2 linked regions of the Homo sapiens genome follow. The main gene of each other region encodes a partner of the protein of the gene in region 2 in a complex. Each region holds a gene or a part of one and is shown on either strand. Other genes may lie near its edges. A codon is read from its position in the direction of its gene.

Evidence for each region. Proteins that work in one complex are often made in the same cells at the same time.
Region 1: the proteins of ANPEP (region 2) and AGT are in contact, whole or in part, in a crystal structure (PDB 4FYS), measured with the Homo sapiens proteins. Residues at the interface, in NP_001141.2 of Homo sapiens: Gln211 (codon at 6,416), Gln213 (codon at 6,422), Ala351, Gly352, Ala353, Met354, Glu355, Arg381, Val385, His388, Glu389, His392, Glu411, Glu418, Asn438, Arg442, Phe472, Tyr477, Ile864, Phe896, Ser897, Asn900, Gln903, Ala904, Arg907; in NP_001369746.2 of Homo sapiens: Val27, Tyr28, Ile29, His30, Pro31, Phe32.

Annotation. Positions count from the first base shown.
Region 1 is NC_000001.11:230,711,123-230,718,294, reverse strand, and holds the start of AGT (angiotensinogen precursor), read left to right. Parts: upstream 1-4,172; 5' UTR 4,173-4,209; intron 4,210-7,172. UniProt on the Homo sapiens protein: Essential component of the renin-angiotensin system (RAS), a potent regulator of blood pressure, body fluid and electrolyte homeostasis.
Region 2 is NC_000015.10:89,804,845-89,811,862, reverse strand, and holds part of ANPEP (aminopeptidase N precursor), read left to right. Parts: intron 1-5,053; exon of another isoform or gene 5,054-5,056; 5' UTR 5,057-5,279; coding exon 5,280-5,893; intron 5,894-6,399; coding exon 6,400-6,542; intron 6,543-6,645; coding exon 6,646-6,785; intron 6,786-7,018. UniProt on the Homo sapiens protein: Broad specificity aminopeptidase which plays a role in the final digestion of peptides generated from hydrolysis of proteins by gastric and pancreatic proteases.

The DNA of each region.
Region 1 (7,172 bases), on a different chromosome or scaffold from region 2:
GTACACCTTATATAAATACAATAAAAATTATTATTAAAAAAGAAAGAACAGGCTGAGAATGGTGGCTTATGCCTGTAATCCCAACACTTTGGGAAGTTGAGGTAGGAGGATCACTTGAGACCAGTAGTTCAAGATCAGCCTGGGCAACATAGCAAGACCCTATCTCTACAAAAAATAAAAATAAAAAAATTAGCCAGATATGGTAGCATGCACCTGTAGTCCTAGTTACTCTGGAGACTGAGGCAGGAGGATTCTTTGAGACATGATCATGCCACTGCACTCCAGTTTGGAGGACAGAGCAAGACCCCAACTCTAAAACAACACACAAAAATACAGCCATTTCTCCTGGGTGAAATGGGGGAGCTCAGACTATTTTGTTTTATTTGTCAGGAGTCTAAAGCCCATGTGAGCCAACTTAAGAAAATTCTGTTTGTATTTGAGTGTTCTTTATTGGAAAGAAATGGACTTTTCCCTAATGAGCCCATTTTACAAATCGAGAGCTCCAAATGCCCGGTTCCAGCCCCCATGATATAGATGGGCAGCAATGAGGACCAGAAATGCTGGGAAGTGTCCTTGTCATGCAAGGAAAACTTGGAACTTCAAGGATCCATCATGGGATGCAGGACAGTAGGCTCCACCCCTCTTCCTGCTTTCCAGTAAATGATGTTCAGGGCTCACATGCCTCTTCCAAGGCATGATGTGGGGTTGCAGTTCTGATCCCAGCAGAGAACAAGGCTCCTGTGAAACAATTAGTTTTGGCTCAGAGGCAAAAAATGGAAACCCCATTCCTGTATTTACCCTTCATTCTTTCCTTACCTCATACAGCTGGTTCCAGGTTTGATTGCATCATATACATAAATAAATAATCTGCTTTCCTGGTTTGGTTTAGTTTTGCTGGAGAGAGGAGTTTATGTGTTCATCCCATGACTAGCTGGGTGGTCAAGAGATTGGAAAGTAGGAGTTCTAGTTTAGACCAAGTCTCATCTCAGAAACCACAGAGTAGAACTGATCCCAAACGTCATCATCCCTGTAGGGAAAAGAAAGAGAGATCAGACTGTTACTGTGTCTATATAGAAAGGGAAGACATAAGAGACTCCATTTTGAAAAAGAGCTATACTTTAAACAATTGCTTTGCTGAGATGTTGTTAATTTGTAGCTTTGCCCCAGCCACTTTGACCCAACCTGGAGCTCACAAAAACATGTGTTGTATAAAATCAAGGTTTAAGGGATCTAGGGCTGTGTCAAAGTGGCTGGGGCAAAGCTACAAATTAACAACATCTCAGCAAAGCAATTGTTTAAAGTACAGCTCTTTTTCAAAATGGAGTCTCTTATGTCTTCCCTTTCTATATAGACACAGTAACAGTCTGATCTCTCTTTTTTTTCCCTACATATCCCAATAGCACCTGCCTGACTAATACATCATGCTCTGCTGACTCCATATGTGGCTGGTTTCCTGGATCCGATTCTGACTGATGGTATCTGTTCTCACGCTGCTAATAAAGACATACCAGAGACTGGGTAATTTATAAAGAAAAAGAGGTTTAATGGACTTATGTGTTCCACGTGGCTGGGGAGGCCTCACAATCATGGTGGAAGGTGAAGGAGGAGCAAAAGCACATCTTACATGGTGGCTGGCAAAAGAGAGAAAGCATGTTCAGGGGAACTCCCCTTTATAAAACCATCAGATCTCATGAGACTTATGCACTATCACAAGAACAGCATCAGAAAGATCCACCCTCATGATTCAATTACCTCCCACTGGGTCCCTCCCATGACACATGGGAATTATGGGAGCTACAATTGGAGATTTGGGTGGGGACACAGCCAAACCATATCAGATGGCTTATTTGGTTTCTATGTAGAACCTCTGCTTTTCATTCAACAGTCTTCATTTAGCCACAGATAAGCTCTGTCCCTAACTTCCACTGATGGAATGTACACATAAGAAACTTCCACTGATGGAATGAACACAGAAGGTGCCTACTGGGAAGAAAACTGGCCTGAATCTGAGCTGGGTCAAATGTCTGCAGTCAGTTTGAATGGCTGCTCCTTATGGGAATAATTTACATTCTCAATAAAATTCTCTAGCAATTTTCTGATTGATTTTAATGAGCTTTAAAGCCTTACGTAGAAGATCCCCCAGCTGATAGTCAGCCTTGGGCATGGATTAAGGGCTTTTAACCAATCTTGCAACAAGTTTAAGCAGATATTCTTTATTGGGTCCAATCTAACCAAAATTATTTTCTTATGTTCTCCCCAGTAACGTGTCATTATTAAGAGAAGTTTGGCTTGCTTAGAGGCCAAATTTAGAGGGTCCTGAAATTTTATTTTCTTTTACACCACTTTCCAGCATGTTACCTGATCAGTTGTTTATTATCTTTGCTGTTGAATGGAGTGATCATTCCAAGGGCCCGAGGCAGGAGGCCCAGGCACAGTGGAAACTCTCCCAAAGACCAGGATCTTTGTTTTGTTCCCTGACATATGCTGAGCACCAGGAATAGTGAGTGAATGAAACAAATTGTGAGGCTTTAAAGAGCCGAAATATTTAAACACTGGGCACAAGGTTGTTGCTTAATCAGTGCTAGATCCTTACCTCCCCCTTGTGTCCAGGTGGACTTGTTACTGCAGTTAAACCACTTGCTGATCCTCAAACAACTAGTTAGTGGCACAGCCAGGCCTAGGACCCCAGTCTCTACTGTTCCAACTAACCCATTCGCAGGCAGGAGCACTTTGAATGGTCTCTTATTTTAAAAAAATTAAATTAAAATTGTCTATTTATTTAGAGACAGAGTCTTACTCTGTAGCCCAGGCTCGAGTGCAGTGGTGCAATCATAGCTCACTGTAACCTCCATCTCCTGGCCTCAAAAAGTGTTTGAATTACAGATGCGAGGCACTGTACCTGGCCCGAATGTTCTGTTCAGACAAAGCCACCTCTAAGTCGCTGTGGGGCCCCAGACAAGTGATTTTTGAGGAGTCCCTATCTATAGGAACAAAGTAATTAAAAAAATGTATTTCAGAATTTACAGGCCCATGTGAGATATGATTTTTTTAAATGAAGATTTAGAGTAATGGGTAAAAAAGAGGTATTTGTGTGTTTGTTGATTGTTCAGTCAGTGAATGTACAGCTTCTGCCTCATATCCAGGCACCATCTCTTCCTGCTCTTTGTTGTTAAATGTTCCATTCCTGGGTAATTTCATGTCTGCCATCGTGGATATGCCGTGGCTCCTTGAACCTGCTTGTGTTGAAGCAGGATCTTCCTTCCTGTCCCTTCAGTGCCCTAATACCATGTATTTAAGGCTGGACACATCACCACTCCCAACCTGCCTCACCCACTGCGTCACTTGTGATCACTGGCTTCTGGCGACTCTCACCAAGGTCTCTGTCATGCCCTGTTATAATGACTACAAAAGCAAGTCTTACCTATAGGAAAATAAGAATTATAACCCTTTTACTGGTCATGTGAAACTTACCATTTGCAATTTGTACAGCATAAACACAGAACAGCACATCTTTCAATGCCTGCATCCTGAAGGCATTTTGTTTGTGTCTTTCAATCTGGCTGTGCTATTGTTGGTGTTTAACAGTCTCCCCAGCTACACTGGAAACTTCCAGAAGGCACTTTTCACTTGCTTGTGTGTTTTCCCCAGTGTCTATTAGAGGCCTTTGCACAGGGTAGGCTCTTTGGAGCAGCTGAAGGTCACACATCCCATGAGCGGGCAGCAGGGTCAGAAGTGGCCCCCGTGTTGCCTAAGCAAGACTCTCCCCTGCCCTCTGCCCTCTGCACCTCCGGCCTGCATGTCCCTGTGGCCTCTTGGGGGTACATCTCCCGGGGCTGGGTCAGAAGGCCTGGGTGGTTGGCCTCAGGCTGTCACACACCTAGGGAGATGCTCCCGTTTCTGGGAACCTTGGCCCCGACTCCTGCAAACTTCGGTAAATGTGTAACTCGACCCTGCACCGGCTCACTCTGTTCAGCAGTGAAACTCTGCATCGATCACTAAGACTTCCTGGAAGAGGTCCCAGCGTGAGTGTCGCTTCTGGCATCTGTCCTTCTGGCCAGCCTGTGGTCTGGCCAAGTGATGTAACCCTCCTCTCCAGCCTGTGCACAGGCAGCCTGGGAACAGCTCCATCCCCACCCCTCAGCTATAAATAGGGCATCGTGACCCGGCCGGGGGAAGAAGCTGCCGTTGTTCTGGGTACTACAGCAGAAGGTAAGCCGGGGGCCCCCTCAGCTCCTTCTCGGTCTTGTCTCTCTCAGATGTAACTGAGCTGTGGGCTAGGAGGAAAAGGCCGGGAGGAGGCACGGTGATGACTGAAAAACCTCTCCCCTCTCATAAGACCAGTCATCCGGACGCGGGCTTTCCCCCACTCGGTGCCCACCTGGGGTCTTACAGGAGGAGCTGCTCCTCCTCAGCAATAGGACAAGATGGTCAGGTCTTCCTGCTTCCGCTGAGAAAAGTTAGGGTCCTCAGGAACGGAGCAGACTGGTACAGGAACAGAGTCATCATGGCCAAGAGTCCACCGGGTCCTCTTGCCATCAGGAGGAATAGCAGGGCTTGTGCAGGAATTGGGGCTGGAGGGAAGGGCCGGGCTCGGTCAGTCTCCAGCTGGGATCCCCAGAGTGGTCACCCTACCCCTCCCTCGAGACAGACTGCCTGACTGTGTGTCATCAGGCTGGTCACCATCTCCCTGAACCTCGATTTGCTCACCTATAAAATGGAACTAATAACGATGCCTGGGCTCCCTGTCTCAGGGGCTCTGGTATAGCTGAAGAGAACTAATATAACATGAAAGTGCTTTCTAAGCTTTGGGATAAGCTAAAAGGCAGATTCCAATTTTATTCGAGGGCAGCGTAGATTGGTGCTTCAGCTCGTGGATGACAGAGTCAGGGGGCCTGGTTCTGAGTCCTAGTTCTGTCTCTTCCCAGCTGTGTGACGTTGAACAAGTCACTGGACCTCTCTGTTCCTCTGCAAAACAGCATGAACCAATTCATTAACTACTTCTCCAGGATGCAGTAGGTCCCAGGGACTATCCTAGGAATGTGGGCTGTATTAGTAAACACAACAGCGGGAACCCTGTTCCGGGGCTCACATTCACATCAGAGCAAACAGACAAAGACGCTGGACAGAATAAGTGCATAACTACATGGTACAGAGGGTTATAAGGAGGGAAAAGGGGAGCTGGATGAGAGAGTTGAGAGTGCCCGGTGTGGTGGGGAAAGCTGCAGGGTGAAATACTGCATCAGGGAAACCTCAGGGAAGGTGAGGACTATGGTGAGGTCAGAGGGGTTGATATGAGAACAGTGCCCTGCAAATGGCAGGCACCACAGGAGCATGAGCCGTCATCTTCACCTTTAGCATTCAGCCCGGGAGAAGTAGGGAGACATAGAAGGGGCAGGTGCTGGCCAAGAGGCAGGGGCAGGAGAGGAGAAGGCGGAGGGGCACTCAGGGCGAGGGTGTCAGGCCCGCCACCCCAGAGCACCATTACTCCCAGGACGCGGCTGCGTGCAGACCTGGAACCAGCCTAGGGAGCAGCCGCAGATCACAACTGAGAACAAACGACAGTCTCTGCCTCAAAAATGGCCCATGGAATTGCGTCTCTGGAGACGCTGCCTGAGCAGGAGCAGCACAGTGAGCGGGCTGCATCGACCAGCGCCATCCAAACCCCGAACAGTTGGCGCTTGTCAGGCAGGACTTCCCAGCAGTCGGTTCCCACAGGTTTCCCCTGTTGACCTGATTTGATGTGACTGTCTAGATTAGGTGTGAACTGGTGGCTTAGGCTTCTCTGCACAGAAAGGCCTGCAAGCAGCAGAGAGAGTTTTCTGTTCCATTTTTCCATGTCATGTGGCTCTTCCTGAGAACAGCGGATGGAGTCAAATGCATGGGGAGTGGGGTGAGATGGTAGCTGAGGTCAGAATTTGGCATTTGAATGACTGAAGCAGAACAAAACACACCAGGTACTTCAGCAGCTGCACCGTGTTGAGGGCAGGTGCTGGTTACGGGTCTGGGTGAGGGAAGCCAGCTGCCAATGTAAGAAGAATGACTGGGTATGCTTAGATGAAGCAGAAAAATCTAGGCATCAAGGTGGCCTTGAGTCAGTGATGACACGCTACAGCTCCAAGGAAGCCTGGCCTAGCCCTGGGGGGACAGAAAAGGCCAAGAAGTGACGATATTGCAGTACACCCCCCTCCACAAGAAATGAGTGAGATGTGGTACAAAATGTTAGAATTGAATGAATCAATAGAATAAACGTTCATCCCTTCAATCAAGAAGAGTCAGATGAAATGAATTAGCAGGGCCAGCCCAAGAACCTCTTCTGGGGGTCTCAGGGTAGCTTTCATTTGTAGCAGCTGAGGCTGAAGCCCAGCTGCAAGGCCTTTGAGAGAACGTGGTGCTGGACCCGTGTCTAGGGCAGGGGTTCTAAACCCTGCTTACATATCAGAGTCACCTGAGAATTTTCTATTTTTTTTTTTTTTTTTTTATACGTGGTCCCAGCACAGACTAAGGAATCCAACTATCATTGGGCAAGCCATGCTAGGTATGCATGCCTTTGGGGCTCTGCAGGGGATAGCGCTATGCAGGGATGGTTGAGAGCTGGTTTTGGGGTTGAGACACGTGGGAAATACTTGGACTTTGGGCTGAGCCTGTGGTGCTCAATCCCGGCTGCATGTTGGGACCACAGGGAGATGACAAAACCATCCCCAGCCCTCACCCTAGGGCCCTCGAATGAGCATCTCAGGGGTCTAGGAGGCCTCCACAAAGACCTACTGATTGGCACACACTTGTTTCTCTAGGAAGAGAACTTACAGCTGCAGGCAGGAGCATGTCTTAATCTGCTTGGGCTGCCATAAGTACCACAGACTGGGAGGGTTTAACAACAGAAATGTGTTATCTCACAGTTCTGGAAGCTAGAAGCCTGGGAGCCAGCCATCAGCAGAGTTGGTTTCCTCTGGGTCCTCTATCCTTGGCTTGTAGATGGCCGTCTTCTCTCTGTGTCCCCACATGGTCTTCCCTCTGTGTCCCCACATGGTCTTCCCTCTGTGTGTGTCCATGTCCTCATCTCCTCTTCTCATAAGGACACAGGTCATATTAGATCAGGGCTCACCCTCATGGCCTCATTTTAACTTAATCATCTCTTTAAAGATCCTGTCTCCAAATAATGGTCACATTCTGAG
Region 2 (7,018 bases):
TTCTACCCCGTCAAGAAATTCACAGCGAAAGGAACACATGCATTTTGCTCACTGGCAGAAAGAGCCTGCACCAAAGACAACCCGCAGGGCCAGCAACCCCAACATCATACAGGGTGGAGCAGCAGTTCCCAAAGCGGGTGCAACTGGACAGGATCCTTTTAGGAGCTACCTAGAGGAACAATTTTTTCTTTTTTTCTTTTTTTTTTTTTTTTTACTTGAGATGGAGTCTCACTCTGTCGCCCAGGCTGGAGTGCAGTGGCACGATTTCGGCCCACTGCAACCTCCGCCTCCCGGGTTCATGCCATTCTCCTGCCTCAGCCTCCCGAGTAGTTGGGATTACAGGCGCCCACCACCACGCCCGGCTAATTTTTTGTATTTTTAGTAGAGATGAGGTTTCACCGTGTTAGCCAGGATGGTCTCGATCTGCTGACCTCGTGATCCGTCCGCCTCAGCCTCCCGAAGTGCAGGGATTACAAGCATGAGCCAACACGCCCGGCCCAGGAACAATTTTTAAACCAATAGTCATGAATTGTTAATATAAATTAACACATCCAACCATGATTTTATCGCTCAGAAGGAGGCTAAGAAAGTGAATTGATTTAAAGAAAAATACGAAGTAAATAATCACAAAGGTGGATCACGAAGGTGGTTTGTGCACAGCCCAGAAGCCCAGGAAGGAATGTCGGGTAGAGAGGGTGGAACCTGTCCCGAGGATCAAGGCTCTGAAGTTCCATCCTTAACTGCTGTCTCTCATTCTTGCACTGATGCCCCATTCCACAAGCACGTGTTGCCCTCCCACTGCACGCCAGGTGTAGAGGATACGGCACACCTGGTGCTACCCTCATGGAGGCACTTGGAGGGCTGCCTGGGGGCAGCACCACTGACTTGTGTCTCCAGGGCAAGTGGGGAGTGGATGAAGCAAAGGCAGGAAGCTTTCCAGGCCCAAGGATCAGCTTGTGTGTAGGGAGGAAGGGAGAATGAAGCGGGGAAAAGCAGGTTGGATTTGAACTGAAAGAGGCCACTGGGGTGGAGCACAGAAGTGACAGGGGAGAGCGTTTGAGATGAGGCCAGAGAATCACTGGGGGCTGGATCACACAGGCCCTGTAGGTCACGGCAAGGACTGTGGGTGTTGTCATTCATTTGGCCAACATGTATTGGGCTCCTGCCTTGTGCTGGGCATGGAGGGGCATACGATGCCACCAGGCCTTCCTTTGAGGTGCTTGGGTGCAGCAGCAGGCTTTTGAACACACTGGTAGCATTTTTCTTTTTCTTTTTTTTTTTTCTTTTTTGAAACAGAGTCTCGTTCTGTTGTCGTCCAGACTGGAGTGTAGTGGCACGATCTCCGCCCACTGCAACCTCCACCTCTTGGGTTCGAGCGATTCTTCCGCCTCAGCCCCCCAAGTAGCTGGGACTACAGGCGTGCGCCACCACGTCCAGCTAATTTTGTATTTTTATTTATTTATTTATTTATTTATTTATTTTTTGAGACAGAGTCTTACACCGTCCCCCAGGCTGGAGTACAGTGGCACAATCTCGGCTCACTGCAACCTCTGCCTCCCGAGTTCAAGCGATTCTCCTGCCTCAGCCTCCTGAGTAGCTGGGATTACGGGCACCTGCTACCATGCCCAGCTAATTTTTTGTATTTTTATTAGAGACGAGGTTTCACCATGTTGGCCAGGCTGGTCTCCAACTCCTGACCTCGTGATCTGCCCACCTCAGCCTCCTAAAGTGCTGGGATTACAGGCATGAGCCACCGCGCTCAGCCTCAGTGGCATTTTCCTAAGTGCTGTGATAGAGGTGGGAACTGGAGACTGGGGAAGCGCAGAGGGGAGTGGGGGCTGGTGTGCATGATAAGGCAGTGACATTGAGTTGGGTTTTGAAGGATGAGTAGGAGTTTGACAAGAGGGAGAGGAAAGGCATTCCTGGCAGTGGGAACAGAATGAGCAAAGTCACAGAGGTATGAAAAAGCCCCGATGATCTGGGGAGACGCTGGCAGCTGGAGCCACAGTGGGCAGTAGAAAGAGGACAGGCCAGAGGGTCAAGTTCACAGAAGGTATTAAGGCCCAAGCCAGAGTTAAGGTTTCACTCTGCAGGTTGGGCACCAGGTTTGAATGGGAGAGTCCCACCCACACTCTTAGGCAGAGCCCTCTGCTGACGTGTGCTGGTGGGGTTGGGTGACAGGGGAGGGTAGCATAGCCGCCACTGCCCGATGGGGTGTGGAGGTGGCCAGGCCTGGGCTGTGGCAGGGGACTGGACGAGGGAAGCCCTTTTGTGTGTTCCTGAAGGTGGGGGCTGCAGAGCATGGCTGTCTCTGTGCCCCCAGCCTGGGTTGGCCTGGTGCCTAGAGCAGGGACCTCTCATTATAGAGCCAACTTTGGGCTACCTGCTGCACCAACTTGGAAGACCAGAGGCCTTGTCCAGAAGAGTAAAGATTCCAGCCAGCTGGGCCTATGGTCTGAATCCAAAGCAAACAGGAAGAGAGTATGGTGGGCCAGGCAGGGCCTCTTTCTTTGTTTAGAAAAGGGATTAGTCCAGGCCGACTTGTGGGTCTTTCTGCTGCAAAGGTGGGAGGGGGCTGCAGGCTCCGTCAGGGACATATCAAAAGGCTTTTCAGGGGCAGGCATGGTGCCCCAGTGCCAGCCTGGGGGGTGCTGTAAAGATGGGCTCCCTTGGCGAATTCCATCCACCCTGATGGGAGGAGCCTGGCAGCATGTGCTGGGAGCCACTGCTCCTTCTCTCACCACGCCCAAGCTGGAGCCCTTCCTGACACCTGATTTCGCACGATTGCCCCTTGGGGTCATCACCCAAGCCTAATGGGGTGTCTGCTAGTCACTGCAGTGGGAGGTCCATCCTGGTCCCAGACCAAGGCCCCTTGGGGAAATGCCAAAGGCTCAGAACACCCTCAGTCTCAAAGGTGGGCACCCAGGACTCCCCTAAAGACCCTGGGCTCAGACTCGGCCTCCATACACCAGACGAGAGGCGGCAGGTATTTGTGTTTTGCTTATGCCTGATTGAACTAATCCACGTGTCCCTTCAGTTCACACATTGCATTTATTTAAGAAGCCTTCCTGCAAGCTCAGGGGTGGCAGGGGTGGCAGGGGTGGCAGACGAGTGAGGCCCTCAGGGAGCAGAGCTGAGGGAGCAGGAAGGCATGTGGGGCCCTGACATGCTGGGGCCTGGCACGAGTCCGGCCTGCCTGCCATGCTTGGAGAAGGGCTCAGAAGAGGCAGGCACTTCTTCTGGGGGCAGGTGTGGGGTGGGGACAAGCTGGGAGACAGAGGCCAGAAAGACTTTGGTAAGGAGTTTCTCCTGGACTGACTCATTCATTCATTTACTCAATCCTTCGTGCATGTGCGCATCCACTCAACATCTCAGTAATGAGGACCTACTGTGTGCCAGGCACTGTGCTAAGTGCTGGTGAGGCCCTGCTGTCATGGGGCCTGCAGTCCAGGACTCAAGTTATCACCACACAGATCAAAGGGAAAACCACGCTGAGTTCTGGGGCTTTGCAGAACAGGTCTGTGGAGCTAATGGAGCTCATAGGAGCTTGACTTGGTCAGGGAGGTCAGGGCGGCTTCGCTGCGGAAGACTTGTAGGATGGAAAGGAATTAACCAAGGCAATAGGGAAGAGAAGATCCAGGCAGAGGGAACAGGTTGTGCCAAGGCCCTGGGGCTTGATGAAGGCCAGAGTGGCTGGGGTACTGCAACAGGGGGGAAGAGGCCAGGAAATGGGCAGGCTGACTGTACCCGGGCTTGTGGGTGCCTTTAGAAGGTCTGGTCTGGACTCTACAAGCAAAAGGAAGGTTTTTTTTAGCAGTGGCATAAAATGATCCAATTTGTGTTGAGCAGGTTCAAGCAGGCCCGAATGGAGGCAGGGAGTCCATAGGGGCGCTGCTGTGTCCACATAAATGATGAGAATGGTTTTGACCAAGTGCATCTTGCGATGGGGGAATGTGGGTGAATTGGATGTGGAGTGAGGTCAGGCGGTGTCGAGGTCTGAGAAACTGGGCTGGTGGATGGGGAAAGTGACAATGAACATAATTTTCCTGTAAGGTGTGTATTTTATTTTGTATGGTAAGTAATATCTTCATTTCTACCAAGGATAGAAAGAGGCAATTGTTGAGCTTTGGGTAAGAAAGAAGGGAACGATTTTTTTCTTTTTTCTTTTGAGTCTCACTCTGTCACCCAGGCTGGAGTGCAGTGGTGCGATCTCAGCTCACTGCAATCTCTGCCTCCCGGATTCAAGCAATTCTCTGCCTCAGCCTCCCAAGTAGCTGGGATTACAGACGCCCGCCACCACGCCCAACTAATTTTTTTTGTATTTTTAGTAGAGACGGGGTTTCGCCATGTTGGCCAGGCTGGTCTTGAACTCCTAACCTCGTGATCCACCCACCTCGGCCTTCCAAAGTGCTAGGATTACAGGCGTGAGCCACCACGCCCAGCCGGGAATGATTTTTAATCATTCTACTATTTGGTGTTTAATATGTTTTCTCACTAAATCTGTTCAACAAACCTGAGAGGCAAATACTGTTATTTATTTATGAGGAGAGAGGTTCAGAAGGGTAAAGTTACCTGCTCAAGGTCACAGCTGGAAAGAGGTGAAGCCTTCAGCAAAAAAAGCAAAACAACTCATTTCATTTTATTCCGTGAGCTGATAATGGAGGAAAAAGTATTTGGCAAGAAGCGGCAGGGAGGGGAACCTGGAGGAACTCCCTGCTCTTGAAGAATGCAAGGGAGGCTGGGACCTTGTCACTGAGGAGCCCCTGGCATCCTTCCAGAGATGCAACCAAAGGGGTGACCCCAGTGTGTTCTTAATAGGAGCCGGGAACCCCTTCTCTGTGCACCTCCCACCTCTTGCCCCTGGGAAGTCCTTCCCTGACTCTAACCTCAGTTCTGATGCTGTTCCCACCCTCTCAGCTCTCAAGCAGATCAATGCAATGCCACCTGGCCGCTTGCTTTGCCCACTGGGCCTACAGCCGGAAGCCTGCCCTTCAGCCCTCGGGCCTGATCCCAGGCCGCCTGCAGCCTGTAACCAGACACTGTTTGCTTCCAGCAGGCACCCCCCGAGCCCAGCTCCACACACCGTTCCTGGATCTCCTCTCCCCAGGCGGAGCGTGCCCCTGCCCAGTCCAGTGACCTTCGCCTGTTGGAGCCCTGGTTAATTTTTGCCCAGTCTGCCTGTTGTGGGGCTCCTCCCCTTTGGGGATATAAGCCCGGCCTGGGGCTGCTCCGTTCTCTGCCTGGCCTGAGGCTCCCTGAGCCGCCTCCCCACCATCACCATGGCCAAGGGCTTCTATATTTCCAAGTCCCTGGGCATCCTGGGGATCCTCCTGGGCGTGGCAGCCGTGTGCACAATCATCGCACTGTCAGTGGTGTACTCCCAGGAGAAGAACAAGAACGCCAACAGCTCCCCCGTGGCCTCCACCACCCCGTCCGCCTCAGCCACCACCAACCCCGCCTCGGCCACCACCTTGGACCAAAGTAAAGCGTGGAATCGTTACCGCCTCCCCAACACGCTGAAACCCGATTCCTACCGGGTGACGCTGAGACCGTACCTCACCCCCAATGACAGGGGCCTGTACGTTTTTAAGGGCTCCAGCACCGTCCGTTTCACCTGCAAGGAGGCCACTGACGTCATCATCATCCACAGCAAGAAGCTCAACTACACCCTCAGCCAGGGGCACAGGGTGGTCCTGCGTGGTGTGGGAGGCTCCCAGCCCCCCGACATTGACAAGACTGAGCTGGTGGAGCCCACCGAGTACCTGGTGGTGCACCTCAAGGGCTCCCTGGTGAAGGACAGCCAGTATGAGATGGACAGCGAGTTCGAGGGGGAGTTGGCAGATGACCTGGCGGGCTTCTACCGCAGCGAGTACATGGAGGGCAATGTCAGAAAGTGAGTTCCGGCTGGGCTGCCCGGTGGGGTGGATCCGAGGTGCTGAGGCAAGGCTGGATTCTGAGGGCCAAGGAAGGACTTAGCTTGCAGGCCTTTGAACCCTGTGGAGCCCGAGACTGGCCCATTGCTTCACCTCCAGCTGCTGGCAAAGCAGCTGCAAATGCACCGAACTGGGAGGGCTTCCCCACCCCTCACCAGGGAGCTGGGGATGAGGGACAGAGCGTCCCTTGGACAGACAGGAAAACCGAGGCTCAGAGGAGAGAAACTCACCCGAGGTCCCTGAGAGCCTGCTGGCACCCCGAATCCAGAAGGAGCCCCAACCCCCACGAGTCAGCTGGCCTGGCAGGGCTCCGGAGGCTCCCGGCGAGGCGGGGGTGGGAGCAGGAGCAGGGGTTAGGCTGGGGCAGCCTTCCATGTACCCCTTTCCCTGCATGCCTGGTAGCATCCTCAGAGCCCCTCCCACACCCCCAGCTCTGGCACACCCTCTAACCTTCCTGTTGGGGCAGGGTGGTGGCCACTACACAGATGCAGGCTGCAGATGCCCGGAAGTCCTTCCCATGCTTCGATGAGCCGGCCATGAAGGCCGAGTTCAACATCACGCTTATCCACCCCAAGGACCTGACAGCCCTGTCCAACATGCTTCCCAAAGGTGAGTGGGCCCTGCCTGCGGCCACAGGGCCAGGGGGCAGGCACCCTGGGCTGGGGTGTGGGGCAGGAGGGTACGTCCTCACACACACATGCTCCCTGCCCAGGTCCCAGCACCCCACTTCCAGAAGACCCCAACTGGAATGTCACTGAGTTCCACACCACGCCCAAGATGTCCACGTACTTGCTGGCCTTCATTGTCAGTGAGTTCGACTACGTGGAGAAGCAGGCATCCAATGGTGTCTTGGTATGAGGCTGGGCCCATCTCTCCTTCACGTGGGCTGGCCCCGGCTTGAGGGGTCTTCCCGTTCTCTTCATCCCTGTGCCAGTTTCTGAATTGTTAGGCCAGGGTTGGAATCCCACCTCTGAGTGATTTCAGGCAAGTGTCTTGTTCTCTGGTTCTCCATTTCTGCACCTGAAAAATGAAAACAATGGTTTCTCTTCATGAAGGGAGTTCCTGACCCACCGGTTACCAGACAG